Regions from separate parts of the Homo sapiens genome. Here region 2 is linked to region 1. Evidence: fine-mapped expression QTL. A gene starts in region 1. The other region holds a variant in brackets. All regions are shown on one strand. Distances are from middle to middle. Region 1 holds the start of EPRS1 (glutamyl-prolyl-tRNA synthetase 1). Region 2 has its middle 24 kb from the start of SLC30A10.

Evidence for each region. PIP is the estimated chance that this variant, and not a neighbour inherited with it, causes the effect.
Region 2: its variant is the best candidate, but not a certain one, in a credible set for the expression of EPRS1 in fibroblasts (GTEx, PIP 0.73).

The regions. Positions count from the first base shown.
Region 1 is chr1:220,042,711-220,058,033 of GRCh38, reverse strand. EPRS1 (glutamyl-prolyl-tRNA synthetase 1) reads left to right here and starts at 11,529. Exons shown (of 32, transcript NM_004446.3): 1 at 11,529-11,691. The coding sequence starts at 11,646. It overlaps BPNT1 (3'(2'), 5'-bisphosphate nucleotidase 1), which reads left to right. Exons shown (of 9, transcript NM_006085.6): 9 at 1-552. RefSeq lists enhancers at 11,318-11,387, 11,448-11,777, 11,819-12,376.
Region 2 is chr1:219,945,090-219,960,412 of GRCh38, reverse strand. It overlaps a transcript of SLC30A10 not described here. Among named protein-coding and RNA genes, the nearest start is that of SLC30A10, 24 kb to the right of the region's middle. The variant C/A (reference allele first, on the strand shown) is at 4,413.

The DNA of each region.
Region 1 (15,323 bases):
GGCTAATTTTTTGTATTTTTAGTAGAGAAGGTGTTTCACCGTGTTAGCCAGGATGGTCTTGATCTCCTGACATCGTGATCTGTCTGCCTCGGACTCCCAAAGTGCTGGGATTACAGGTGTGAGCCACCGCACCTGGCCTAAACCAGATTTCTTTAGGGCACAATTTTTTCTGGAATCTCACTCTTGTTTTTCACAGTAATTTTAAAAACGTTTCTACTCCAATTAAGAATATATATGATGTTATTATATATGCTTATGAAACAGATTTATGAGAAAAGTTTTTTTTAAATAAATTATTTAATCCTAGCTCTTTGTTATTCACCAGCTTTTTAAAAAAGTGTTTGAAAATTATACATTCTCGACTTTGGGGATTAGTTTATTCTTGTGGCATCATTATAAGGCTTAATTGTGGAAAGCTAAGTACTTGCTTCTATTCCTTCCAATGAGAGATTATAACATAAACTATTAAAATTATTCTGCTAATATACCTAGATTTTTATTTTTAGGTCTCTGTCCATTGCTTTTAATTAAAATTATCTGTTTTCAAATCAACAAGTGGTTTAAATTAACAGTTCCCAAACTCAACTGCATATCAGAATCACCTAGGAAGATTCTTTTAAAATGCAGATTCACAGGCCAGGCGCAGTGGCTCATGCCTGTAATCACAGCACTTTGGGAGGCCGAGGCGGGTGGATCGCCTGAGGTCAGGAGTTCGAGACCAGCCTGGCCAACATGGCGAAACCCTGTCTCTCCTAAAAATACGAAAATTAGCCGGGCATGGTGGTGTGTGCCTGTAATCCCAGCTACCAGGGGGCTGAGGCAGGAGGATCACTTGAACCTGGGAGGCAGAGGTTGCAGTGAGCTGAGATCGTGCCACTGCACTCCAGCCTGGGCAACAAAGCGAGACTCTGTCTCAAACAATAAAAATAAAAATTCACAGGGTTTATCCCAACGATTTTGCTTGTGTGTGTGTGTGTGTGTGTGTGTGTGTGTGTGTGTTTATTTACTTATTTATTTATTTATTTTGAGACAGAGTCACTCTCTGTCACCCAGGCCAGAGTGCAGTGGTGCAATCTCGGCTCACTGCAACCTCCACCTCCCGGGCTCAAGCGATTCTCCTGCCTCAGCCTCCTGAGTAGCTGGGACTACAGGCACATGCCACCACCCCTGGCTAATTTTTTGTATTTTTAGTAGAGACGGGGTTTCGCTGTGTTAGCCAGGATGGTCTCGATCTTCTGACCTCATAATCTGCCCACCTTGGCCTCCCAAAGTCCTGGGATTACAAATGTGAGCCACCACGCTCAGCCTGCTTCTGTATATTTTAAGAAATTCAGGGACTGATAATCATTTAACTCTAGGACTCACTAGATAAGGTAATATAGTATTATTTTATAGAAGTGTCATAATCTAGCAGGAAGAGGTCTCTGTGGTCTTGACACCTTTGAGCCCTCCCTCCTGTAAGTCTCTTCTCATTGTCCTGGCTTTCTTTTTTCACCTAGCCACTCCTACTCAGTCTCCTTTATTGCTTTCTCTTTGTCTTCCTTCCCTTAAATGTCACTGTTTACCAAGATTCTGTTCTAGTCTCTCTCCTTTCTTTTTTTTCTTTTTTTGGTAGAGATGGGGTCTTGCTATACAGCCCAGGCTGGTCTTGAACTCCTAGCCTCAAGCAATCCTCCTGCCTCTGTCTCCCAATGTGCTGGGATTATAGGTGTGAGCCACTGCACCTGGACTATGCTTTCTCTCCTTTCTCACCAGAGGATCTAATCCACCTGTGTGACTTTTGTGGCGCTTTTGCTCATTAATCCAAAATCTTTAGCTTAGAACTCTCAAACTCTAGATCTATATACCCCAAAACCTACCTAGATGCCTTACAGAGATGTCTGAATGATTATGTCTAAACAGTTCTTCACTCTTGCCCCGACCCCTCCAGAAATTATTTTACAAACCCATGAGGTGATCTTGATAATTGGCCAAGTTAGAAAATCATCACCTGAATCCACCTGCTTCCCTCTACGAATGGAGTTCTCTATCTGTAAATAGTGGACTAAACCTAATTTTTAAAAAATCTAAGTGTAACAAGAGAATAACTTTATTTTTATTTATTTATATATTTCTTGAGACGGAGTCTCGCTCTGTCGCCAGGCTGGAGTGCAGGGGCGCAATCTTGGCTCACTGCAGCCTCCGCCTCACGGGTTCAAGCGATTCTCCTGCCTCAGCCTCCTGAGTAGCTGGGATTACAGGCATGTGCCACCACGCCCAGGTAATTTTTGTATTTTTAGTAAAGATGGGGTTTCACCATGTTGGCCAGGCTGGTCTCGAACTCCTGACCTCAGGTGATCCGCCTGCCTTGGCCTCCCAAAGTGTTGGGATTATAGGTGTGAGCCACTGCGCCCAGCCCTAAGATAATAACTTTTTTTTTTTTTTTTTTTTTTTTGAGATGGAGTCTCACTCTGTCACCCAGGCTGGAGTGCAATGGCATGATTTCAGCTCACTACAACCTCTGCCTCCCGGGTTCAAGTGGTTCTCCTGCTTCAGCCTCCCGAGTAGCAGGGGCACACCACCACACCTGGCTAATTTTTTGTATCTTTAGTAGAGACAGGGGTTTCACCATGTTGGCCAGGCTGGTCTTGAACTCCTGACCTCAGGTGATCCACCTTCCTCAGCCTCCCAAAGTGCTGGGATTACAGGTGTGAGCCACCACACCCGGCCGAAAATAACTTTGAAGGTATTTTCTTCAGGTTCCTATACGAAAACCCAATTTATGTAAGTGAGATATGTAGGAGTCTAAATCCTCTCTCCATTACTCTTGACTCTACATTAATTACATTAGTTTATACCCTTATACCCCGTTATTTCTTCCCTAGATCCCTGCAGTGTCTTGACTAATCTTTCTGCCTACACTGTAACCCATCTATCTCTCTCTCATCCATTTATCACGTCATCTCCAGAGTGATTTTTTTGTTTTGTTTTGTTTTTGAGACAGGGTCTCGCTCTGTCACCCAGGCTGGAGTGCAGTGGTGTGCTTATAGCTCACTGCAGCCTTGACCTCCTGGGCTTAAGCAATTCTCCTGCCTCAGCCCCCCCAAGTAGCTGAGACTACAGGTTTGCACAGTAACGCCTGGCTAAGCCGGGCGTGGTGTCTCACGCCTGTAATCCCAGCACTTTGGGAGGCTGAGGTGGGTGGATCACTTGAGGTCAGGAGTTCAAGACCAGCCTGACCAATATGGTGAAACCCTGTCTCTCCTAAAAATACAAAAATTAGCCAGGCATGGTGGCACATGCCTGTAATCCCAGCTACTTGGGAGGCTGAGGCAGGAGAATTGCATGAACCCAGGAGATGGAGGTTGCAGTGAGCCAAGATCATGCCACTGCACTCCAACCTGGGTGACAAAGAAAGACTCCATCTCAAAAAAAAAAAAAAAAAAAAAACGCCTGACTCATTTTTGTATATTTTTTGTAGAGATGGGGTTTCACCATGTTGCACAAGCTGGTCTCAAAATCCTGGTCTCAAGGGATTCGCCCACCTCAGCTTCCCAAAACGCTGTGATTTTACAAGCGTGAGTTACCACACCGGGCCCAAAGTGATTTTTTAAAATCAAATGTAATGCCATTCCCCTTACTCAAAATATTTTATGGCTTTCCTTTGCCTTCAGGATAAAATGCAAACTCCTTATAATGATATATGAAGCTCTTAATGGCTTCTTCCTTCTCCAGCATCAACTCTGACCCTAACCTATACTGTAGCCATGCTCAACCATTTAAAGTTCCCCTAAAACACTATCTTTTCTCTTAGCATGGCCTCCATTCATTGAACAAATATTTATTGAGCACCTACTATGTGTTAGGCACTGAACATAGGTACTGAACATTCTTTCTTTTTTTTTTTTTTGAGACAGAGTTTCATTCTTGTTGCCCAGGCTCACTGCAACTTCTGCCTCCCAGGTTCAAGCGATTCTCCTGCCTCAGCCTCCCAAGTAGCTGGGATTACAGGTGCCCGCCACAACGCCTGGCTAATTTTTTGAATTTTTAGTAGAGTTGGGGTTTCACCATGTTGGCCAGGCTGGTCTCGAACTCCTGACCTCAGGTGATCCACCCGCCTCGGCCTCCCAAAGTGCTGGGATTACAGGTGTGATCCACCTTGCCCAGCCAGGTACTGAACATTCAACAGTGGATGTAACAGTGACCATAAGTCTGTTCCTTTGTTGAGCATGTGTTCTTGTGAAACAAGACAGATAATAAGTAAATAAAATTTTAGATTGTGGTAAATGCTATAAATGAAATCAGGAAGATGAGCTAGAAAGCAACTGGGGTAGGGTTGGAGGGTTGAAAGAGGATCTTCTGTACATAAAAATAGGAGTATGTTTTCCGTGGAGATGATGTCTGGTCAGGCACACTAAGAGCTGAGATTTCTAGTGTATATAGCAAGCAAACAACATCTCTGAGAAGACAAAGAAAAAGAACTTAAAGGAAGCCACAGTGGCTGAAGTAAAATGAACAAGGGGCAGAGTGTTATAAAATGAGGTTGGGATAGATCCTGAGGCAGAACTTGGGTATTAAAAATTATAAAAAAGAAATGAGATTGGGGATGCAGGTAGGGGTCAAGTCATCTACATCCTTAAACATTTTTAAAAAATATTTCAAGGATTGAGGGGAAATGGGAAGTGACTGCCAAAGGGTACAAAGTTTCTTTAGGGGATGATAAAATGTTCTAGAAGTAATTGTGGTGATGATTGAACTCTGAATTATACACTTTAAATAGGTGAATTTTATGGTATGTGAATTATATCTCAATGACGCTGTTAGAAAAAATAAAATGAGGCCAGGCATGGTGGCTCACGCCTGTAATCCCAGCACTTTGGGAGGCCAAGGCAGGTGGATCACCTGAGGTCAGGAGTTCAAGACCAGCCTGGCCAACATGGTGAAATCCTGTCTCTACTAAAATACAAAAATTAGCTGGGCGTGGTGCTATGTGCCTTTAATCCCAGCTACTAAGAAGGCTGAGGCAGGAGAATCGCTTGAACCCGGGAGGCGGAGGTTGCAGTGTGCTGGGATTGCGCCACTGCACTCCAGCCTGGGCGACAGAGTGAGACTCCATCTCAAAAAAAAAGAAAAAGAAAAAAGAAAATGGTCGTATGTGTCTAGTGCCTACCACACTGTATAGCATAGCTCTGTATCTTCTTCTCCAGGCTTATCTCATCCATTTTAATAACTACTCACACCTTCAGCAAAACATTTCAACTGAGCCCCAGATTTTATTATATTATTATACAAATATATTACAAATATTATACAAATATATACAAATTATATATTATACAAATTATACAAATATAATACAAATATTATACAAATCTGCAATTTGTAAAGGATATTTTCACCTACATATCTTACAGACATCTCAAAAAATCAGTCTAGAACCAAATAATTTGCCAACTCTGTTTCCTCTCTTGTCTTCCCTCCTTTGATAATGACATAACCATCCACCCATTTATCCAGCTGAAATCTAGGAATAAACCTAGGCAAATTTGCTTCTCGGCCGGGTGCAGTGTAATCCCAGCAATTTGGGAGGCTGAGGATGGCAGATCACTTGAGGCCAAGAGTTTGAGACCAGCTTGGCCAACATGGCGAAACCCCATCTCTACCAAAAATACAGAAAAATTAGCTGGATGTGGTGGCACACGCCTGTACTCCCAGCTACTTGGGAGGCTGAGGGATGAGAAGTGCTTGAACCTGGGAGGTGGAGGTTGCAGCGAGCTGAGATTGTGCCTCTGCACTTCAGCCTGGGTGACAGAGGGAGACTGTATCAAAAAGAAAAAAAATTAAAAAATTGCTTCTTTCACCATCACCTCCCCAAACATCTCGTCTGTCATTACTGATTTTACCTCCTAAATATATCTGAAACTTGTTCTCTATTCTCAGATCTTATTCCACTGCCTTAGTTCAGGCCATCATCTTTTATTTTCTCTCATATGGACTGTTGTAATAACATCTTAACTGGTTTCCCTAATGCCAGTTCTGCGCACTCCAAGTCATCTCCTATATTATTGTCGAAGTCATCCTTGTAAAATATGATCCTAATCACATCTCCTGCTCCTGCCTAAAACTTTTCACCGACTTTCTATCATAAGATAAAATCTTGCTCCTCAGCATGATATATAGAACTCTTCCTAATTTAGTCTGCCTACATTCCAGCCTTTTAGTCCCTTACTTCCAAAAGATTTTATATTCTGGCAATAACGAACTGGTCAGAGTTTTCCAAGTACACACAGCTTCATGACTTCAGGTTTTAGCTCATATTCTTCTTTTACCCCCTTTTTTCCCCCACTCCTTAAATATACTTTTTTTGAGGGGGGGGACAGGGTCTTGCTCTGTTGCCAAGGATTGAATACAATGGCATGATCATAGCTCACTGCAACCTTAAACTCCTCAAGTGGACTCAAGTGACCCTCCTGCCTCAATCTCCCACGTAGCTGGGACTACAGGCATAAACCACCACACCCAACTAATTTTTTTTTTTTCTTTGTGGAGACAGGGCCTTGCTATGTTACCTAGGCTGATCTCAAACTTCTGGCCTCAAGTGATCCTCCCACCTCGGTTTCCCACAGTGCTAGGATTACAGGTGTAATTACAGGCATACAGGATTACAGGTATATTACTGTGCCCAGCCAAATATGCCATCTTTTAGCCAAAGCTTTCCTTTACCATTCTGTCTTTCCTTCCTCACTCAACATGGATAATCATCTTCCATCTTCTGAGCTATCTTTGTACTTTCTGCAAAGTTTATTATTTTTACTCTCATTTCAATTTTTTTTTTTTTTTAGACAGAGTCTCACATCTCACTCTGTCACCCAGGCTGGAGTGTAGTGATGCGATATCGGCTCACTGCAACCTCTGCCTCCTGGGCTCAAGCAATTCTCCTGCCTCAGCCTCCAGAGTAGCTGGGATTACAGGCATGTGCCACCAAGCCCAGCTAATTTTTGTATTTTTTGTAGAGATGGGGTTTCACCATATTAGCCAGGCTGGTCTCAAACTCCTGACCTCAAGTGACCCACCCGCCTCAGCCTTCCAAAGTGCTGGGATTACAGGTGTGAGTTACTGCACCCCGGCCCCAAAATGTTTTTAATATGAACATATTTCTATTGCTACATATATCTCACTGTGTAGCAATTTTTATTTACCTTGTGTTTTTGTTTTGTTTTGTTTTGTTTTTTAGACACAGTCTTGCTCTGTTGCCCAGGCTGGAGTGCAGTGGCGCAATCTCAGCTCACTGCAACCTCCACCTCCTGAGTTCAAGCGATTCTCCTGCCTCAGCCTCCCCAGTAGCTGGAATTACAGGTGTGTGCCACCATGCCCGCCAGGCTAATTTTTCTATTTTTAGTAGAGACAGGATTTCACCATGTTGGCCAGGCTGGTCTCCAACTCCCAACCTCAGGTGATCCACCCACCTCGGCCTCCCAAAGTCTGTAGCCTTCTTGGTCAGGCACGGTGGCTCATGCCTGTAATCCCACTACTTTGAGCAGTTGAGGGAGGAGTATTGCTTGAGTCCAGGAGTTCAAGACCAACCTGGGCAACACAGACCCCATACCTACAGAAAATAAAAAATTAGCTAGGCATGGTGAGCATGCCTGTAGTTCTAGCTACTTGGGGGGCTGAGGTGGGAAGATCGCTTGAGCCCAGGAGATTGAGACTGCAGTGAGCTATAATCGTGCCACTGGACTACAGCCTGCTCTGTCTAAAAAAAAAAAAAAAAAAGTTTGGGCGTGGTGGTTCACACCTGTAATCCCAGCACAGAATCCCAGCACTTTGGGAGGCTGAGGCAGGTAGAACACCTGAGGTTGGGAGTTTGAGACCAGCCTGGGCAACATGGTGAAATCCCGTCTCTACTAAAAATACAAAAATTAGCTGGGCATGGTGGCACACACCTGTAATCCCAGCTACTCAGGAGGCAAAGGCAAGAGAATTGCTTGAACCAGGGAGGCGGAGGTTGCAGTGAGCCCAGATCATGCCAGTGCACTCTAGCCTGGGCAACAAAATGAGACTCTATCTCAAAAAAAAAAAAAAGGCTTCTTGAGGACAGGGACTTCACCTTTCATCTCTGTATCTCCTGTTTATGTACACAATAATAAGGAGTGAAAATCCAATACCCATTCTTGATTTTAAAAAGAATCCAGGGCTGGGCACGGTGGCTCAGGCCTGTAATCCCAGCACTTTGGAGGCCGAGGCGGGCAGACCACCTCAGGTCAGGAGTTCGAGATAAGCCTAGCCAACATGATGAAACCCCATCTCTGCTAAAAATACAAAAATTAGCTGGGCGTGGTGGCAGGTGCCTGTAATCCCAGCTACTTTGGAGGCTGAGGCAGGAGAATCACTTGAACCCAGGTGTCGGAGGCTACAGTGAGCCAATATCATGCCGTTGCACTCTAGCCTGGGCAACGAGAGCGAAACTCTGTCTCAAAAAGAAAAAAAAAAACCCTGTTAACCTAAGAATATATAAGAAACCAGCGGCAAACACTATTCTTTTTTTATTTTTATTTTCAGGGAAAGGGTCTTGTTCTGTCATCCAGGCTATAGTGCGGTGGCGCGATCATAGCTCACTGTACCTTCAAACTCCTGGTCTCAGGTGATCCTCCCATCTGGGCCTGCCAAAGTGCTGACATTACCAGCAAGAGCCATTGCAGCCAACCTAGCAGACACTATTCTTTTTTTTTTTTTTTTGAGACAAAGTTTTGCTCTTATTGCCCAGGCTGGAGTGCAATGGTGCCATCTAGGCTCACTGCAACCTCTGCCTCCTGGGTTCCAGTGATTCTCCTGCCTCAGACTGCCAAGTAGCTGGGACTACAGGCATGCACCACTACTCCAGGCTAATTTTGTATTTTTAGTAAAATGACGCGGTTTCACCATATTCACCAGGCTAGTCTCGAACTCCGGACCTCAGGTGTTCTGCCTACCTCAGCCTCCCAAAGTGTTGGGATTACAGGTATGAGCCATTACACCTGGCTTACAGACACTATTCTTTAACATTTTTTTTTTTGAGACGGACTTTTTGCTCTTGTTGCCCCGGGCTGGAGTACAGTGGCATGATCTCTGCTCACTGCAACCTCCAGCTCCCAGGTTCATGCGATTCTCCTGCCTCAGCCTCCTGAGTAGCTGGGATTACAGGCATGCACCACCACGCCCAGCTAATTTTGTATTTTTAGTAGAGACAGGGTTTCACCATGTTGATCAGGCTGGTCTCGAAGTCCTCTACTTAGGTGATCCACCCACCTCGGCCTCCCAAGTGCTGGGATTACGGGTGCGAGCCACCGTGCCCGGCCACAGACACTATTCTTGATAATGCAACATTAGCGGCATTCCCACTAAAGTCAGGAACAAAGCAAATACTCTCTTATTCGACACTATTATTGCTCCCATTTAACATCATTCTGGAAGTTCTAGCCAATGAAAGAGATAAGATATAGGTCATGTAAATTTTGGATAGGAAGAAAATGATATTTACCTAGAAAATCCAACATAACTAAAAAATGATTGGAACTAGTAAAAGCATCCAACAAGATGGTAACTCTAAGACCTAAGACTTTCTGCTATAAGTCCCACTATCCTGAAAGTAGGCTTCTTTTTTTTTTTTTTTTTTTTTATTGAGATGAAGTTTTGCTCCTGTTACCCAGGCTGGAGTGCAATGGCGTGATGTCAGCTCACCGAAACCTCTGCCTCCCAGGTTCAAGCGATTCTCTGGCGTCAGCCTCCCGAGTAGCTGGGATTACAGGCATGCACCACCACACCCAGCTATTTTTTTGTATTTTTACTAGAGATGGGGTTTCTCCATGTTGGCTTGGCTGGTCTCAAACTCTCGACCTTAGGTGATCCGCCCGCCTCAGCTTCCCAAAGTGCTGGGATTACAGGCATGAGCCACCGCGCCTGGCCTCAAGTCTCATGGGAGATGTAATCTAAGGGGCCCTCCCTAATGAAAACAAGGATGTCTTGGGGAGGTTAAGAAAAAGTGTAGGCGAGGATGTGGTTGAGATGGTTCTTGGAATCCATCCCGGGTCCCCGTACTTTAACACCAGCCCTTGAAATATGGGTGCAGCTCACACACACGAATGTGTGTATACACCTTGGAGTATCTCTGGAGCTCATGCATGCACGTCCGTCACAAAGGATTTGAAAGGGAGAATCAGATGAGACGCTGAAAAAAACACCTGTGGACTCCATGATTGGGGGCGGCATCGGAGGGTTTTTTTGTTTTGTTTTTTAGATCAGGTCTCTCCCTGTGTCGGCCAGGCTGGAGGGTAGTGGCTACTCACAGGCAAGTCCACGGCGAGGCCACTACAGCCTCATCTTCCTGGGCTCAGGCGATCCTGCCTCAGCCTTCTTAATAGCTGAGACTACAGGAGCGCGCCACTGCGCCTATCTGCAGTGATTTTTTGTTTGTTTTGAAACGGGGTCTCAGTCTGTCGCCCAGGCTGGAGTGCAGTGCCGCGATCTCGGCTCACCGCAACCTCCTCCTCCCGGGTTCAAGCGATTCTCCTGCCTCAGCTCCCCAAGTAGCTAGGATTAAAGGTGCGCGCTACCATTCCCGGCTAATTTTTGTACTTTTAGTAGAGACCCCCGTCTCTACAGTTTCACCATGTTGGTGAAGCTGGTCTCCAACTCCTGACCTCGAGATCCGCTCGCCTCCGGCCTCCCAAAGTGCTGGGATTACAGGCCTGAGCCACCGCGCCCGGCCTCTGCTGTGATTTTTTTTTTTTTTCTTTTCGAGAAGGAGTCTCACTCTGTCGCCCAGGCTGGATGCAGTAGCACGATCTCGGCTCACTGCAACCTCCACCTCCCAGGTTCAAGCGATTCTCCTGCCTCAGCCTCCCAAGTAGCTGGGATTACAGGGGCCCACCACCATGCCAGGCTAATTTTTGTATTTTTAGTAGAGATGGGGTTTCACCATGCTGGCCAGACTGGTCTCGAACTCCTGACCTCAGGTGATCCGCCCGCCTACACCTTCTAAAGTGCTGAGATTACAGGCGTGAGCCACCACGCCCGGCCTGCAGTGATTTTTAAAGAGTCTTTTATATTTCCTTTAACCATTATTTTCAACACGCAAATAACTCTTGAAAATACGTTCTTGTTTTGGAAAAAAAAAAACGGGGGGGAATGTATAAAATAAACAACGAGAAAAACTTCTCCCATTCCCAACGTAATCATGGCTATCGTGTGTATGCTTCCAGGACTTTTCTTTTTACATAAAGACAGTGCATGCTTTTGTTTCGTGCTTCACATAAACGCCTATCCCATCTTAAAGATGGTTTTACAACCTGCTGTTTTACGACCTGCTGACTTGACGAAGTGTCGTAAAGTCCCGTCCACTTCAGCGTCTTTCCCACCGCAGCACGAAAGGCCACGCAGGCCGTTCTAACCCTGGCGGCCAAGAGGAGGGGTAGCAGGCTCTGGAACCTGCGGGCGGGGACGAAGACGGCGCGCGACGATGTCGCACCGCGGCGTGCGCGGTGTCGGCAGTAGCTGCGGCGCAGGGGCGGAGCGAAGGCTGCGGCGGCGTCGGGTACGCGCACACGTTGCATCTTCTTCCTTTCGCGGGGTCCTCCGTAGTTCTGGCACGAGCCAGGCGTACTGACAGGTGGACCAGCGGACTGGTGGAGATGGCGACGCTCTCTCTGACCGTGAATTCAGGAGACCCTCCGCTAGGTAAGGGGCCGAGACCAATGACCTGTGTGGGTTGCATCAGCCAGGGAGGGTGCAGGGCGTGGAAGGTCGCTGCGCCCCGGCTTTGCGCAGTGGTGGTCACCATCTGGGATGTTGGACCTGCCCCTCGCCCCAGAATTGTACGTGGAGGAGGCTCCGCACCCCTCGCCCCGTGTCCCCGGCAGGTGCATCTGCTCCTGAAGATGGTTTTCCCGGGCATGGAGGGAGGCGCAGTGTGAGCCCGGGCTAGACAACACGAGACTCCGCTTCGGATCTTTTTCTCAGAGGGATGAACTCCCAGTCAACTCACCTCTCCCTTTTTCCCCCGGAGAGCGAGAGTTGCTCGTGGAAATAAGATTTTAAAACTTAAAATCCAATAGTCGTCGCTTCTCTTTTAGCATTTTTCCCCCAACTCCTTTTCTTACCTCCTTTCCTGTCCTGTCCCTCCTCTCAGGAGAAATCCTCAGTTCACTTGAGTCAAATTTTCCTTACGTTTTATCGAGTTCAGAAGAAATAACCCAGACGAGCATATTAGCATTTAGGATTTCAACTGAGGCTGCATTTATTTTTAATTAAATGTGGTAGGGTAATTGGGGAAAACACCCAGGTACACTGTAGACTGATGCGGTTGCTTTTACTGCACCCTGTGGATGTGTAGTAAATTTCAGAGTAAACATTGGATCTGTCACCTTACTGACACATCTTAAGTTCTGTTTGGAATTATTTTTTCGACATGACCAAGATTATTGTTGGTAGATTGCTTAGAATTTCTGCTTTTTCATTACTTTGGGAAATTACACAGAAGAATTTAAGTAGTTTGCCGATTTTTTTTTTTCTTTTGAGAGTCAGGGTCTTGCTCTATCGTCCAGGCTGGAGTGCAGTGGCGCTTTCAAGGCTCACTGCAGCATCGAACTTCCGGGCTCAGATGATCCTCCCACCTCAGCCTCCTTAGTAGCTGGGACTACAGGCGCGTGCCACCATGCCTGGCTAATTTTGTGTTTGTGTCTTTTTTGGAAAGATGGCGTTTCACTGTGTTGCCCAGGCAGGTCTCAAACTCCTGGGCTCAAGCCATCCTGACTTGGCCTCCCAAAGTACTAGGATTACAGGCGTGAGCCACAGTACCCAGCCTGACCTAATATTTGTTAATGCATATGTATGATAATACACACACAGTACTTTCTAATGTTGAAGAAGCCCATACCTTTATATACAGTTGACCACGTGGGGCTGATGAAATTATTCATTATATTCTCAACTTTGGTGATGTTTTAAGGTTGTTGAACAAAAACACAACTTAATAGCCATTTTAAACATTTAAAAGATGGTAATGTTTTGGCATATTGGTTGCAGTAATGGACTAACCGCACAACAAATCAATGAACTCTAAAAGGAATGGGTTTGATTCCTGAGCTGGAAAGGCATTAGAGTGCCTTCATGATTGAGAGCAAAGACATTTGGTTTCTGCAGACCTGAGTCCAATCCTGGCTGCCACTTACTAGTTGTGAAACCTTGACAAGTTCCTTATTTAGCTTCTCCCATAGTTTCCTTGTTTTAAGAAAGGGAGAATAATGTCTTCCAGATAGGATTGGTTGCCAGAGTTAAGTGAGACTATAGTTAAAGCTCCTGATACTGTTTTTTTTTTTTTTTTTTTTTTTTTTTTTTTTGGAGACCGAGCTCATTGCAACCTCTGCCTCCCAGGATCAAGCAATTCTTGTTCTCAGCCACACGAGTAGTTGCGCTTAGAGGTGCGCACCACCATGCCCGCCTAATTTTTGTATTTTTTAGTAGACACAGCATTTTGCCATGTTGGCCAGGCTGGTCTCAAACTCCTGACCTCAAGCAGTCCGCCCGCCTTGGCCTCCCAAAGTGCCAGGACCACAGGTGTGAGCCACCATGCCCAGCCTCCTGATACATTTTTTGTTACTTAGAAAATCACCCTGAAGGTGGCCTGTTTCTGTAGTGTATTACAGAACTCAGAATTCTGCCAGTATTCTGTGAAACTCTTGTCATTTTGAACTGTATGCCAGTTATCAAATATATCATTTTTCTAATTGCTCCTCTCCCTTTTTAATTTTTGATTTAATTATTCCCAGTTTAATTCAATTACATTTTATCTTTAAGTAATATAATTAGATGAAACATTTTAAAATAATAGTTGCATTGCTAGAATTTTCCTATTTTGTATGCATTCATCATGTTATATATTTAATGTTAATTTCAAACTTAAAATAAAGACCTTTTTCCCCCATACCACCCAAGAGCATACTGTAGATATGAGGCTTCAGTATCTCAGCATAACTCCAGTGTACATCCCCAACAAACTTGGAAACTCCAGGTGATCTCACACAAGCACCCAAATCAGGAAATACACTTGGATACAATGCTTCCATCTAATGCACAGACCCCATCCTTGTTCTATCATTATTTGTTACAACCAGACCCTCCATAGTGTTGAGATCAAAATCCCGTATTATGCTTTGTTTGCATCTGATTGTCACCTCTCTCCAGTTTCTTTCAGTCTGGAATGGTTTCCTAGTCTTCCCTTGGCTTTCATAGCTTTGACCTTTCTGAAGATAACAGGCCACTTAACTTGAAGAATATCCTCTGTTTAAGTTGTCTGATATTTCCTGGTGTCTAGATTCAGGCTCTTTGTTTTTGGCAGGAATAGCGTAGTTATTCCTTGTTCTTCATTGCAGCCCATCAGTTGGTGCATGAATTTAATTTTCCCATTACTGATTATTCTAACCTTAATTTTAATGGGCAGATGCATTGGAATCATGTAAATGTTCCACTTTGCATCAGATCTTCACCCACTAGTTTCAGTATCCATTGATACTTCCTGCCTAACTTGATTTTTATGATTTTATGATGTTTGCGAGATAGTGACTTTCCCATTCTACCATTCCTTCTGTATGTATTAGTTGGCATTTTTCTGTGAGGAGAGCTTTCTCTTTTTCCCATTTAAAAAAATCATAGCAAAAATACTCAAGAAGTTACAATTTGTATTATTTTCATTTTCTATTTAAAATTATTTTGTTTTTAAAAATTAGTTTTATTGAATTATAACTTGTATACAATTGTTCACCAATTTTAAGTGATTGACAAATGTGTACAATGTGACAAATGTGACAAGTGTGTAATCTACACCACAGTCATCATGTAGAGTATTTCCATTACTTCAGAAAGTCCTCTCACGCCCCTTTGCAGTCATTCCTTTCCCTACTCCTAGCACCTAATAGCGACTCATCTTCTTTTTGTCACTTTTTTGCTTTTTCTATAATTTCATATACATTGAATCATATTATATATATTCTTATATTCTCATATGTGCCTAGGATAATACTTCTGAAATTCATATATCTTTTTGTCTATGACAGTAGTTTACTTTTGTTGTTGTTGATGTTGTTTTTTGTTTGTTTGTTTTTTGAGATGGAGTCTCACCCTGTCACCAGGCTGGAGTGCAGTGGTGCGATCTTGGCTCACTGAAACCTCTGCCTCCCAGTTTCATGTGATCCTCCTGCCTCAGCCTCCCGAGTAGCTGGGACTATAGGCGCATGCCACCACGCCCAGCTAATTTTTTGTATTTTTAGTAGAGACGGAGTTTCACCATGTTGTCCAGGATGGTCTCGATCTCT
Region 2 (15,323 bases), 98 kb after region 1:
TATATTTATATATATTTATATATATATTTATATATTCATATATATTTATATATATTTATATATTCATATATATTTATATATTTATATATTTATATATATTTATATATATATTTATATATATTTATATATATGTTTATATATATTTATATATATGTTTATATATATATATAAAGAAATGTATTATAAAGAATTATTTCACATGATTAAAAGACTAAGAAGTCCCAAGATTGATGGTGAATCAGTAGGCAAGAGACCCAGGAGAGCCGATGGTGTAGCCCAAATCAAAGACCCACACGCTCAAGACCCAGGAAGAGTCCATGTTTCAGTTTGAGTCTGAAGGCAGGAAAAAACAAACGTCCCAGGCTGAAGGCAGTCAGGCAGGAAGAGCTACCTCTTATTCAGCATTTTTGTTCTCCTCAGGCTTCAACTGATTGGAGGAGGCCCACCCACATTAGTGAGGGCAATCTCCTTCATTCACTCTGCTGATCCAACTGTTAATTTCATCCAGAAACACACTCACAGACAAAGCCAGAAAGTCTTGCATGTCATTGACCAAATGACCAGTCAAGTTGACATACAAAATTAACATCACATCTGGGAGAAATAGAGATTGTAATATCACTCTGTGTTTCTTTAAAATATTGACAGTAGTCAGGCTGCTCACAATAGAGGCCACTGCTGTTTCAGTCATTTTGGAACTGATAGGCCTTTAAGGGCTATGAGTGTTTGACAGATAACATTTTTTAAAAATAAAAACAAAAACTTCCTTGCATCAGTGAAATCATTATTACCTGTCTGTCTTCCTGGAAACTAACTGGAATTATGTCTTCAGCTCTTCCAGTTTAAAGATTTCCTGAATATGAGGAATATTTCTTTTGTCTTATAGAGAATGTTTGGAAGTAGGGTGACCCCTCGAATATTCCCTACTTCACACAGTAAATGACATTCAGAACTGCACACCAGGTGGACAAGATGTAATTGCTTATGTCAAATGACTTGCTTCACCTGAGCTGTTTCTGCACACACGGAGCATGGAAGCTGGAAAGGCCACCGCCACTGATGAGCTTCTACATGACTCAAGGACACAGAAGCTCTTGACGTCTGTAATTAAACACACACATGCACAAACAAAACAGTCTCTCAAGTCCATATCTGAAGCCAGTGTCTTGTATTTCCATAAATCCTGGCTCATGTGACATCTCTTGCTTAATTGCCCTTTAAACTGTTTTATGGCTTTATAGCAACCTATAAAAGGTGATTTCCAAATATGACAAGCGCCGGAGGGCTGAAGGGAAGAGTTACCCAGGAGTTGTAATCACTGAATCTATAGCTGCTTCCCTAGCAGCTCAGCCTTCCCAAGAAAGGGAGAGGAACTGCCAGGGCACCGAGACGCCATGGGGCGATACTCCGGAAGAAGCTTCCGTTTAATCCTCATGTGCGTCGTTAGCATCCTCCTCTTTGTGATGGAACTAGTGATCGCTTACGTTGGCAACTCCCTCTCCTTGGCCTCCGATGCTTTTGCCGTCCTTTCCCACTTTGTGTCCATGATCATAGGTTTTTTTGGTGTAAGGGCCAGTAACATAAAACAGCACAAGAAGAGCACTTACGGCTTTCTTCGGGCAGATGTTGTGGGAGCATTTGGGAACACCATTTTTGCGGTGGCGCTGATGTTCAGCATCCTGGTTGAAGCCATCAAAAGGTACATCAATCCCCAGAAGACAGAGGAGCCGATACTGGTTCTCAGTGCTGGAATTATCGGTCTGTTCTTCAATGTTCTTAACTATGTCATCTTCTTGGACTGCTGTTACTGCGCAGCACCCAAGCCCCAGGGAGACATGGAAGCAGGTAAATAGCTACTCAGAGGGTGGCAGTAAATTTGGTGAGAGTCCTGGCAGGTGCTGTCTGAGGGGGCCTTTGTGGTGCTATCCAAAGGGGCCCGAGTCTTTGGGTCAGCCTTTTGTCCCTGTGATTTTACAATCGACCTTTCTCAGAAGAGTTGCCTTTAGTTTGAGGTTCCTTGTGAGTAGGGTAGCAGCAGTTTGCTTCAATGTTGGGAGGACTTCTCGAATTTTTACTCACAGGGAATGAAAAAGTGTCTTCAGGCACGCAGAGAGGAAGTAAAGGCACTAATCGTAGCCACAGAGAGAGCGATTGGAAAGACGGTGGATGTGGCAGTCTTCTTTAAGTGATTCACTGTTGTTTACCCATATGTGACATGGCTATGTTTGAATTTAAAAAAAAGTTAATGTCTCCATAAAATATGTTTAAAAGTACTGGGCTACATAACCAACTTACAAAGAGCACAGTATCAGACAATCAGGTACGCTGATTAACTGTTAGGAATATATTTGAGGAATGGTATGTAAAATGGCGAGAGAAAAAATAAAGAAGATAGTCCAGTAAATGGGCTAGTTTTTGAAAGGAAAATTTGCACTTATTTATTGCATACGTCTGTTCTGTTTGAGAAACAGGACAATTTACATGTGAATCTTTAGGAGAGACTTAAGTGTGAGTACCAAACTTATTAGATTATCTGTCAAAAGAATGGAATTAAATCTTGGAAGAGAACAATATATCTATAAGATGCTTTTTTTTTAAGATGGAATCATGTTTCTTTAATTTATTGCCACAAGAGGTGTTTGTAAGTATATATGTATCAGAAAGTTCTTACAGAAGAGAAATTTTTAGTGCTTTTATAAAAGAAGTCATATAGCATGAATAGATTCAAATTATGGTTCCAGCACAGGGCAATAGTCAACTTACTTCACCTAGCATGTTTCTCTACCTGTAATATGGAGTTAATAAGGACTGAGAGAAATGCTAAGTAACTTATTTAGTATTTAGTAGGCACTTGATAAATATAAATTATTTTCGAAATCACAATGCAAGCCTTTAAACTACATGGCAATCCGGTATTTAATTCTAATAGCTCATATGAATTTTTAAAAATTTCAAATATTTCCTTATTTGATGCTGAAGAGTTTTCTCTCAGTAGCTGGGCCATTATATAACTGAGTATGGGGACCTCAGAGGCTAAGTTGCATTTTTTATTTGATTCCCTGTCTTTGCTACTATGATAAATTACGTCAGTTGGAGCCGGTCCTTTATCCTACCTCTGTGTCGATTTTCCTGTTGGTAGAACATATGTTATGAGAGTATCTGTAGGATGTGGTAAACATAAAAATAAATTAGAAACTAGAGTCTAGATTTTTATTTGAGTTAATGAATCACTGAATTTGGGCCTCATCTTTTGTAAAGGAAAATTCATTGTTAACTTGAGACCCTATGCTATGGCTACACCAATCATCGTGAAAATTACTACTAGAGCTTCCAGATCATGAAATTCACATATTTCATATAAGACAAATATATATTTTTTATTGCTAGGTATAAATTTAAGGCAAGAGAGATGATTTCAAATGATTAGTGTTGACATTACCATTATATTTTTGATTGTCACATAACAGTTCTGATTTTGCCTTCATTCTTGACATACAACATTTACCTGCACATAACAAAAGCAATTTAGGTAAACGGTCTGACTCTGACCAGTATGAAACTTGGTACACACCATAGTTCTATTTTTATAAAATTGAATTATTACTGGATAGGTCTTAGTTAAGCTTTTGTTTGGGAAGTGGTATTTTCCAATGTGTATGTTCATGCTGAGATAACAAGAGGCTTAAGACAAATGTTTCACTCCAACCATATGGGTTTCTTTTTTTTCTTTTCTTCTTTTTTTTTTTTTTAATTTTTATTTTTAGTAGAGACAGGGTTTCGCCATGTTGGCCAGGCTGGTCTCGAACTCTTGAGCTCAAGTGATCCACCTGCTTGGCCTCCCAAAGCACTGGGATTATAGGTGTGTGCCCCAGTGTCTGGTCCAGCCATATGGGTTTCTGCTGGCTTAATTCTAGAGTATCTAGCTTGTTTTGAAGTATTTGATGCTATATAGTGTTCTAGTTTAAATAAGTGATAGGTACAATACACGTGTGACTCACGCTTTAAGATCCATGTTCTATGTTACCATTATTATTTTGGCAGCTTTTGGTGTTGTTAAATTCTTCTATTAGAAATTTTAGGCTGTGTACAGCAGCTCATGCCTGTAATCCTAGACTTGAGGAGACTGAGGCAGGAGGATCACTTGAGCCCAGAAGTTTGAGGCTGCAGTGAGCTATGATCACACCACTGCACTTCAGCCAGGGTGACAGAGTGAGACCCTGTCACTAAAAAAGAAGAAAAAAGAAAAAGAAAAGAAATTTTAGTGTTTAAACTTGCCAAATTCCTTTAGGACAGCTGTTTGGCTTGTTAGCATTTATGTCTGCAGTTATGTATCACCTTTTCTGAACCATACATTTTGGTATTCTTCCCATCATCTAAATTGGTTTAAAGAAAAGAATAAATATTGCATCAGA[C/A]GAACGTCATAAATTGACATTAACCTGATATCAATTGGCTCACATTTTAAGAACAAATATGATTAATCCATCCATATTTATAAAAGGAGTTATAAACTATGAGAGGGAAAGACTCTTGATTTCAAAAGATTCAACCTAAACTTAGGATAAAGAATTTCTGTAAGTCTAGAACCCTAGCTTATAGCACATGGCAGTGCCTATAAAACAACTCCTGGTACCGCCTGGCTTCATGATCAGAATCCAGTAATGTATCACTTCTTTTGTGGAATCTCTAACTAGAGATTTTGCTTAACAAGCCTTCAGTCTCCCCCAGGTTTTGTGGATCTTTTACTTGTTCTGCTTATCTATCTGGTGTAGAAATTGAATTCATAATATTTGATGTTTGAGATCATGGAAAGTAAAAAAAATCAAGACCACTAACTTTAAATTAAATATAATAGAACAAACTATATATAGGTAAGACTTTAAATATCCCTGGGATTCATGAAAAAAGTTATACTGGAGAATCAGACATACAGAACCAGAAAATTTTTAAAACCTGCGAGAAAAGAATGTCTGGAAGATTTAGCTGAGATGAGAAAACTTGGAAGTCTTAGATCCAGATCTAGCCGGTGGGAGGTCACCCCTGACTCTAAAAGGTGTGAGGAAGTTCAGGTGATGGTAGAGCCAGTATTTTTGGCTAAAGTGAGAGGCAAAGTGAAAAAAGTAAAAAATACGAGCATTAAGTAAAAGACAAACAAACAAAATAGGGTTAAAGTCCACAATGGTCGATGGCTTTGTGTGTGCATGTGTTTCGGGGAAGGGAGTAGGGGAAAGGTTGAAGGGGTGGAAACAACATGTAGGTCCAGATCGCAGGAGATACTTGTCACGAGCCAGTTTCTTTCTCTAGGCTTAGGGACTCCTTTTGTTAACGTTTATACGTTTTCCTATTCCTTGCTTACTTTATTTGATTTTCCTTGATTTTCTTGTTATCTTTCATGTTTAAGTCTTATTTTTAGTTATTTTTTCAGACCTGAAGTTTCTTTAGAATCAAGCTACTAAAACCCTCCATGCCCTTGCCTTGTACTGTACGAATAACCTTGCTGTACAGTGGCCTTTATTTTAACCTAAAGGTGACCTTGTACAGCTCACTTTTCTAGTAGGATGGCTTCTGCTCTATTTTGCGTCTTTTTCTGTCTGGGATAGACGGGGCCTGCCATTTATATCATGTACAAATGATACATTTATATCAGAAATATCTGTTAATTATTTTAAAGTATTTTTTTCTTAAAAAAATGCCTTTCCTTTGAATTTAAGTTTTTTTTTTTTTTTTTTTTTTTTGAGATGGAGTCTCACTCTGTTGCCCAGGCTAGAGTGCAGTGGTATGATCTTTGGCTCACTGCAACCTCTGCCTCCTCGGTTCAAGCAATTCTCGTGCCTCGGCCTCCCAAGTAACTGGGATTACAGGCGTGCGCCACTATGCCCAGCTAATTTTTGTATTTTTAGTAGAAATGGGGTGTCACCATGTTGGCCAGGCTGGTCTTGAACTCCTGGCCTCAAGTGATCCACCCGCCTCAGCCTCCCAAAGTGCTGGGATTACAGGTGTGAACCACTGTGCCCGGCTAAGTTTTGTTTTGATTCCAAATTGTGCTTGCTTTCTCTCTCTCTCCTTCTGTTTCTCATAATCACGGTTCTGGCATTATGTTTCTCCAACCAACTCGCTAGAGGCAGTGACAGCACAGCATCCAGCAAAGTGTATTGTTGCAGAAGGTTTTAACACACTGCTGATTAGTTGCTCATGCAAGCTTCTAGTTAAGACTCAGTACTATAGCCTGACATGGGCTTTTCACGTGGACAGTCCTGTAGCCGCTGAAACAAGTCAGGTTTCCTTTTGTCATAGAGGAAATTTTATTCAGTGACAAGCAGAGTAGGCAAGGCCAAGAATTTTAGGAGAGGCAAAGGGGAATTTGCTGTCTCTCTACCAGTAGCAAATACTATGGAGTAAATAAAATTTGAGGCCGGGCGCGGTGGCTCACGCCTGTAATCCCAGCACTTTGGGAGGCTGAGGCGGGCAGATCATGAGGTCAGGAGATCGAGACCATCCTGCCTAACACGGTGAAACCCCATCTCTACTAAATATACAAAAAATTAGCCGGGCGTGGTGGCAGGCGCCTGTAGTCCCAGCTACTCGGGAGGCTGAGGCAAGAGAATGGTGTGAACCCAGGAGGTGGAGCTTGCAGTGAGCCGAGATCGGGCCACTGCACTCCAGCCTGGGCAACAGAGCAAGACTCAGTCTCAAAAATAAAATAAAATAAAATAAAATAAAATAAAATAAAATAAAATAAAATAAAATAAAATTTGAGAAGCTGCATAATTGAAGGTAGCTTTTCTTTCTTTCTTTTCTTTTTCTTTTTTTTTTGAGACGGAGTCTCACTCTGTCACCCAGTCTGGAGTGCAGTGGCACAGTCTCGGGCTCACGATAACCTCTGCCTCCCTGGTCCAAGCAATTCTCCTGCTCCTGCCTCAGCCTCCCGAGTAGGTGGGATTACAGGCTTGTGCCACCACACCCGGCTAATTTTTTGTATTTTTAGTAGAGACGGAGTTTCACCGTGTTAGCCAGGATGGTCTCGATCTCCTGACCTCATGATCTGCCCGCCTCGGCCTCCCAAAGTGCTGGGATTACAGGCATGAGCCACCGTGCCCGGCCTGAAGGTGGCTTTTCAAACTAGAAAAGGGAAGGTTTTCTAGGCATAGGTTACCTGAGTTCCCTTTCTAGATCGGAGGCAGAATGGTAATGATTGGGAATTTGTGATAATTATTAAATAATTTAAAGAAACATGATGCTTAATTCCCACCAGCTTTACTTTGCATTTTGTCTATATCTGACAGTAACCATTGTTTTCCAAGCACTGTCACAGCTGTTGATCAATTAACTTCCACATGAGGATTCGGTGATAAGAATGCACACACCACAGATCACAGTATCTGTCCCATGGTAGAGACCTAATAAATTCCCTCACAGCTCTTTTGCTACGTTCCTGACAGCTTACCTAACCTCTTACTTCTCTTGTTGTCCCGTGAAGGGGTCTGGATTAGTTACGGGGAGTAAATAAGAAAGATTAAAGGAAGATAGAAAAATAGGTGCTATTTCACATTTGTGAAACCAAATTCAACTGAAGAAAAAAGAAGTTAAAGAGACCATCTCTTTGTTCTTAGTAATTTTTTTTTCCAATGTGCAGAGGCTGCTATGACTGATATCAGGTAAATTTTAATGAAAAATGAGTTTATATTGACATCTGTGCATTGTCAGTCTTTGTCAGAGTATAGAGAGAATAATTAACAGCATCATATCACATACATTTGAAGAACTGTACAAAATAATTAGCTAGAGAGAATACTTGCTATTTATTTCCATTGTTTAGACAAGGAAAACAGGTTCAGACAAATTCCACAATCATACAGCTAGTTAATAGTAGGGTACAAAGAAATTAAAACTTTGAGTCCAGGCCCTTAATTAAAGACTCTACTCTACTTGGCTCCCCTCAGAGAGGAAAACAGTTATGGACTGTGGAAAGTTATTTGGCAATAATCACAAAAGGGCATATTAAAATGTGCAAATGAACATACCATAAGTTGAATCCTAATTCCAGTAGCTAGATGACCTCCAAAAAGTCACTTAAACTTTCTAAACCTCAGTTTCTTCATCTGTAAATCTGGTAATATCTGTCTCTTAGAGATGTTGCAAGAATGAAATTATATTATTTGTGTAAAGTACTCAACACAGTACTTGGAATACACTGAACACTCAATAAATGGTAACATTGGTGGTGGTGGTGGTGGCTGGTAGTGATTGTCCAAGGGCTGAAGGGAAGAGGAACTAATGAAATATTAGTAAGATCCCTTGGCAGACAAGGTCTCTGCTCTATTTCACATCCACAAACTGGCAGGCCACCTTATCCTTGCCAAGACTCTTATTATTGTTAATCATATATATGGTTACAGCAGATCCATCACTATTTCTACAAACCGTACAAAACATGTGTTGTTTTGATGATGGGTTAGTGGCATCTCTTGTGGGATGAACCAGAAGGAGCATAGACCAGTAACAAAAATATATATTTCAGCTGGGCACAATGTTCATGCCTGTAATCCCAGCACTTTGGGAGGCCAAGACAGGAGGATAGCTTGGACCCAGGAGTTTGAGGTTGCAAAGAGCTATGATAGCATGCCATTACACTCCAACCTGGGTGACAGACCAAGTCCCTGTTTCTTTCCTTTTCTTTTCTTTTCTTTTTTTTTTTGAGATGGAGTCTCACTCTGTCGTCCAGGCTGGAGTGCAGTGGCGCGATCTTGGCTCACTGCAAGCTCCGCCTCCTGGGTTCACGCCATTCTCCTGCCTCAGCCTCCCGAGTAGCTGGGACTACAGGCACCCGCCACCACACCCGGCTAATTTTTTGTATTTTTAGTAGAGACGGGGTTTCACCATGTTAGCCAGGATGGTCTCGATCTCCTGACCTCGTGATCCACACGCCTCGGCCTCCCAAAGTGCTGGGATTACAGGCGTGAGCCACCGCGCCCGGCCCCCAAGTCCCTGTTTCTAAAAGTAAATAAATAACTACACAATAAATTAACTTAAAAAAAGAAAAATACATGTTCTGGAACGTCCTCCCTCATCCACTGGTTCTGACACTGGAAAAGATACTTAAGCACTTTGAGCCTCATCTTAGGTATCATTACACCTATTTTAAAGAATCACTCTACAGCCAGGGGCGGTGGCTCACACCTGTAATCCCAGCACTTTGGGAGGCTGAAGTGGGTGGATTGCTTGAGCCCAGGAGTTTGAGACCAGCCTCGGCAACATAGCGAGGACTCACCTCTACAAAAATAAGAAAAATTAGCCAGATGTGGTGGTGCGTGCCTATAGTTCCAGCTACTTGGGAAGCTGAGGTGGGAGGATCACCTGAGCCTGAGGACAGATGCACCTTCTTATCAAGGCTGCAGTGAGCCATAAGAATCTGTTTTTCTTTTGACAAATAACAACACCTTCATGGTGTGTTTTATTTATTTATTTTTGAGACGGAGTTTTGCTCTTGTCACCTAGGTTGGAGTGCAATGGCATGATCTCAGCTCACTGCAACCTCTACCTCCTAGGTTTAAACCATTCTCCTGCCTCAGCCTTCTGAGTAGCTGGGATTACAGGCGCCCGCCACCACGCCTGGCTAATTTTTGTGTTTTTTAGTAGAGATGGGGTTTCATGTTGGCTAGGCTGGTCTCAAACTCCTGACCTCAGGTGATCCACCTGTCTCGGCCTCCCAAAGTACCGGGATCATGGGCATGAGCCAACACGCCCAGCCTATGTGTTATTTATTTATTTATTTATTTTTAGACAGAGTCTTCCTCTGTTGCCCAGGCTGGAGTGCAGTGGCACGATCTTGGCTCACTGTAAACTCTGCCTCCCGGGTTCACACCATTCTCCTGCCTCAGCCTCCCCAGTAGCTGGGACTACAGGCACCCGCCACCATGCCTGGCTAATTTTTTGTATTTTTAGTAGAGATGGGGTTTCACTGTGTTAGCCAGGATGGTCTCGATCTCCTGACTTCGTGATCCACCCACCTCGGCCTCCCAAAGTGCTGGGATTACAGGCATGAGCCACCGCGCCCAGCCAGATTTTTAAGAAGGCTCTTGTAAATGTTAGCTTCCCCATCTTTCAGTGCTCAAGATGGCATTTTGTAGCAGGCCATTACTTGTACTTTTAAAACTACATATTTTAAACTGCTTTAATGGTAATGCAATGTCAATATGTAGCTCATTGAAATAATGCAAATGTGGCTCATATACTAGACTGTAATTTCCAAGATACAGATGAAGAAACTGAGGCATCAACCGTTTTATGGCTAACCCAAAGTTGATGTTAGAGCTGGACTTTGTATTACTGCACCTCTCTTCTGTCAACAGATAGTTTGCCTCTTGAATATTTTCCTGCAGTCCTGTCTAGTGAATAATGATACTCCCCATTTTCTTTGCTGAGAAGCTTGATTTTTCAGGAAGGTAGGGTGAAAGTAAGCTTATTATTTTGGTTTTCTTATTGGCTAGCTGTTTACAAGATGGAGACATTATATTTCTAATTTTTTGCCTCTTTCTTGTTCTTTTGATGGAGACAATAGTCATTGTGGCTTTTTGAAAACATTGTGTACAACTGTCTCTGATGATTATGAAATACACCAATTTTTCTTTTTTTATTTTTATTTTTATTTTATTTTATTTTATTATTATTATACTTTAAGTTTTAGGGTACATGTGCACAATGTGCAGGTTAGTTACATATGTATACATGTGTCGTGCTGGTGTGCTGCACCCATTAACTCGTCATCTAGCATTAGGTATATCTCCTAAAGCTATCCCTTCCCGCTCCCCCCAACAGTCCCCAGAATGTGATGTTCCCCTTCCTGTGTCCATGTATTCTCATTGTTCAATTCCCACCTATGAGTGAGAATATGCGGTGTTTGGTTTTTTGTTCTTGCGATAGTTTACTGAGAATGATGGTTTCCAATTTCATTCATGTCCCTACAAAGGACATGAACTCATCATTTTTTATGGCTGTATAGTATTCCATGGTGTACATGTGCCACATTTTCTTAATCCAGTCTATCATTGTTGGACATTTGGGTTGGTTCCAAGTCTTTGCTATTGTGAATAGTGCCGCAATAAACATACGTGTGCATGTGTCTTTATAGCAGCATGATTTATAGTCCTTTGGGTATATACCCAGTAATGGGATGGCTGGGTCAAATGGTATTTCTAGTTCTAGATCCCTGAGGAATCACCATGCTGACTTCCACAAGGGTTGAACTAGTTTACAGTCCCACCAACAGTGTAAAAGTGTTCCTATCTCCACATCCTCTCCAGCACCTGTTGTTTCCTGACTTTTTAATGATTGCCATTCTAACTGGTGTGAGATGGTATCTCATTGTGGTTTTGATTTGCATTTCTCTGATGGCCAGTGATGGTGAGCATTTTTTCATGTGTTTTTTGGCTGCATAAATGTCTTCTTTTGAGAAGTGTCTGTTCATGTCCTTCGCCCACTTTTTGATGGGGTTGTTTTTTTCTTGTAAATTTGTTAGAGTTTTTTGTAGATTCTGGATATTAGCCCTTTGTCACATGAGTAGGTTGCGAAAATTTTCTCCCATTTTGTAGGTTGCCTGTTCACTCTGATGGTAGTTTCTTTTGCGGTGCAGAAGCTCTTTAGTTTAATTAGATCCCATTTGTCAATTTTGGCTTTTGTTGCCATTGCTTTTGGTGTTTTAGACATGAAGTCCTTGCTCATGCCTATGTCCTTAATGGTAATGCATAGGTTTTCTTCTAGGGTTTTTGTGGTTTTAGGTCTAACGTTTAAGTCTTTAATCCATCTTGAATTAATTTTTGTATAAGGTGTAAGGAAGGGATCCAGTTTCAGCTTTCTACATATGGCTAGCCAGTTTTCCCAGCACCATTTATTAAATAGGGAATCTTTTCCCCATTGCTTGTTTTTCTCAGGTTTGTCAAAAATCAGATAGTTGTAGATACGTGGCATTATTTCTGAGGGCTCTGTTCTGTTCCATTGATCTATATCTCTGTTTTGGTACCAGTACCATGCTGTTTTGGTTACTGTAGCCTTGTAGTATAGTTTGAAGTCAGGTAATGTGATGCCTCCAGCTTTGTTCTTTTGGCTTAGGATTGACTTGGCGATGCGGGCTCTTTTTTGGTTCCATATGAACTTTAAAGTAGTTTTTTCCAATTCTGTGAAGAAAGTCATTGGTAGCTTGATGGGGATGGCATTGAATCTATAAATTACCTTGGGCAGTATGGCCATTTTCATGATATTGATTCTTCCTACCCATGAGCATGGAATGTTCTTCCATTTGTTTGTATCCTCTTTTATTTCATTGAGCAGTGGTTTGTAGTTCTCCTTGAAGAGATCCTTCACGTCCCTTGTAAGTTGGATTCCTAGGTATTTTATTCTCTTTGAAGCAATTGTGAATGGGAGTTCACTCATGATTTGGCTCTCTGTTTGTCTGTTATTGGTGTATAAGAATGCTTGTGATTTTTGTACATTGATTTTGTATCCTGAAACTTTGCTGAAGTTGCTTATCAGCTTAAGGAGATTTTGGGCTGAGACAATGGGGTTTTTATTTTTATTTATTTATTTTTGAGACGGAGTTTCTCTCTTATTGGTTGCCCAGGCTGGAGTGCAATGGTGTGATCTTGGCTCACTGCAACCTCTGCCCCCCGGGTTCAAGTGATTCTCCTGCCTTGGCCTCCCAAGTAGCTGGGATTACAGGCGTGATTACAGGTGTGAGCCACCACACCTGGCCTCATTGTTTTTTAATGAGAGGCAATAATATCTGGAGATTCCCTGTCCTTAGAATGTTTTCCATAGTCCATGTCCTGATATATACTGTCTGCACCTGAATAGGTGTCTTTAGAGAATTTTGAGGAGGTAATTTTTTTTTGAGACAGGATCTTGCTCTGTCACCCAGGCCAGAGTGCAGTGGCATGACCACAGCTCACAGCAGCCTCAACCTCCCAGGCTCAAGCGATCCTCCCATCTCAGCCTCTTAAGTAGCCAAGACCACAGGTGCCTGCCAACCATACCCAACCATTATTTTTCATTTTTTTGTAGAGATGGGGGTCTTACCATGTTGCCCAAGCTGATCTCGAACTCCTGCCCTCAAGCAATCCTTCCACCTTGGCCTCGCAAAATCCTAGGATCACAGGCATGAGCCATTGCACCCTGAGGATGTAGTTTTTGATAAAGTATACCTATGCTCTTGTTCTTCATCTGCCATGAGATCTTTAAAAATGTATCAGCTTAATAGGAAATAAAATAAAGATGATCCTTACATCAGGTCAATGGGAGGTAGGGGCTGGCTCCTTACAAAGGAACAGCAGAGAAGTCAGGTTGAAGGGGCAACTGGCTGAATGGACCATCTGTTTTCTGTAGAATTCTTTACCTGAAGAAACTCTCTTAAGGTCATGAAGGAGAGGAAAGAGGAGAACTAGCAACTAGCTCCACACATGCTGACCAGAGCCAGTTGAGCACATTGTTGGGACTTTTGGGGGCCAATAAACAACTTCATTCATAAATCTGGAACTACTTGAGAAATAAGGAATAAAAGTCCAATAGCAATGAAAATAGTAGCTCAGTGTTTTTGGTAAAAGCTGTTTTGGAGAGTGTAGCTTGGATGTCACAATTGGCTTCCTAATACTAATTCTGTGGAGTAAACTCACCTATCCTCTTACAAGCAGAGCACAACAACTGGAAGAGCAGGGGTGGGCCCAGGAACAGAGAGAATGTGCCTTCTCAGTGGGCAGGCAGTTGGAAGGAGGAAGCCCAGGAAGGGCTGAGCCAGGCTTAATCCATTTCTTCAACCTAACCCGCCAGTGAGAGAAGACCCTTCCACCCTCAGAGTGACTACTTACATGGGGACTGGGGAGGGAATGGAGGCTACACTGGTGGTCGTCTCATGGAAACACAAGACAAGAGGAATGGCAGTCTCCCCCAACACTCTCCAGATTTATGTTCCCTTCACTCCTGGCTCCCCTGGAAGGACTAGATGAACAGTTTATCAGGACTGTACTGCTGCATTTCCATAAAGCTTGTGCTCCCAATATCAACCACTGCTTCCTTTGGATTTCATCCTTTGGAACAGGTTTGGCAATTTAGATACCCTCAATGACTGAAAAGGGTTAGAAGAGTAAGTATACTAGTTAAATTAACTCTGAGGCCCCCAAATGTTCAATATTGCTCATTGGCAATTATATAGTGACACAAAGTGATAGTATCAAGATATGCTAACAATTCAATGTCAGCAATATAAAAATGCCCCAAATTTTAGCAATATGAATCCCTTCCTATTATCAAATTATAACAGAAAATTAAATTTCAAAATTAAATATCTTTGAACTTATGTATTAATAGCCAAAGAAATCAAAACCACTGTTTATTAATCTAAAGGCAAGACCAAAGGCAAGTAAAACCACAAAACCCCCAAGCTTCCTCTTTTGGGCACAGTCTCAGTTTGAGTATAGTTTCATGCCTGGTGGAGTTGGAGTTCCTTCAGCAGTTTCAGTCTGGATTGTTTTCCACTAGAATGGATGCCATTCCTTCAGGGCATCCAAAGTTGCATAAGTTTAGCACCAAGACTTTCATGTTCTCCACCTTTTAAAGATCTTCTCTTTGTCTTTGATGTTCTTCAGTTTTGTAATCATATTTCCATATGTGGACTCTTTTTAAAAAATCCCATCTGGGGATTAAATCCAAGCATTTATGTCTTTCATAAATTCCAGAAGATTTTTCAAACATTATCTCTTCTAGTTTTGGCTTTCCCCTGTTCCTTGTACTTTCTCCTTCTGCAATGCTAATTAGATAATATTTGATCTTATTCTGTCCTCCATGTTTTGTAACTTCTTTTTTCACATTTTGCTGTTTTCACATTTTTGTTGTTCTGTGTTGCATTCTACGTGGTTTTTCAGATTTACCTTCATTTATTTCTAGTTTTTGTTTTTTAACTTCGGTTCTCATTAACCTGCCCATTCAATTTTTTAAAATTTTATTTTGAAATCACTTTATATTCTCAGTAAGTTACAAAAATAGTACATAGAAGTCTCATGTACCCTTTGTCAAGTTTTCCCCAATGGAATGATAGTACAATTTCCAAACCAAGAAATTTACATTCATACAATGAGTTATATAATTCTACGAGATTTTTGTCACAAGTGTAGTTCTGTATAACCATCACCAAAATCATCATTACAAAAATATCCCTCATGGTACCCTTTAGTAGTCATAGCCACCCTTCCTACCTTTACACCCTATCTCTATGCTCTGGAAACTAATAATCTGTTTTCCATCTTTATAATATTTTTATTTCAAGAATGTTAAATAAATGGAAT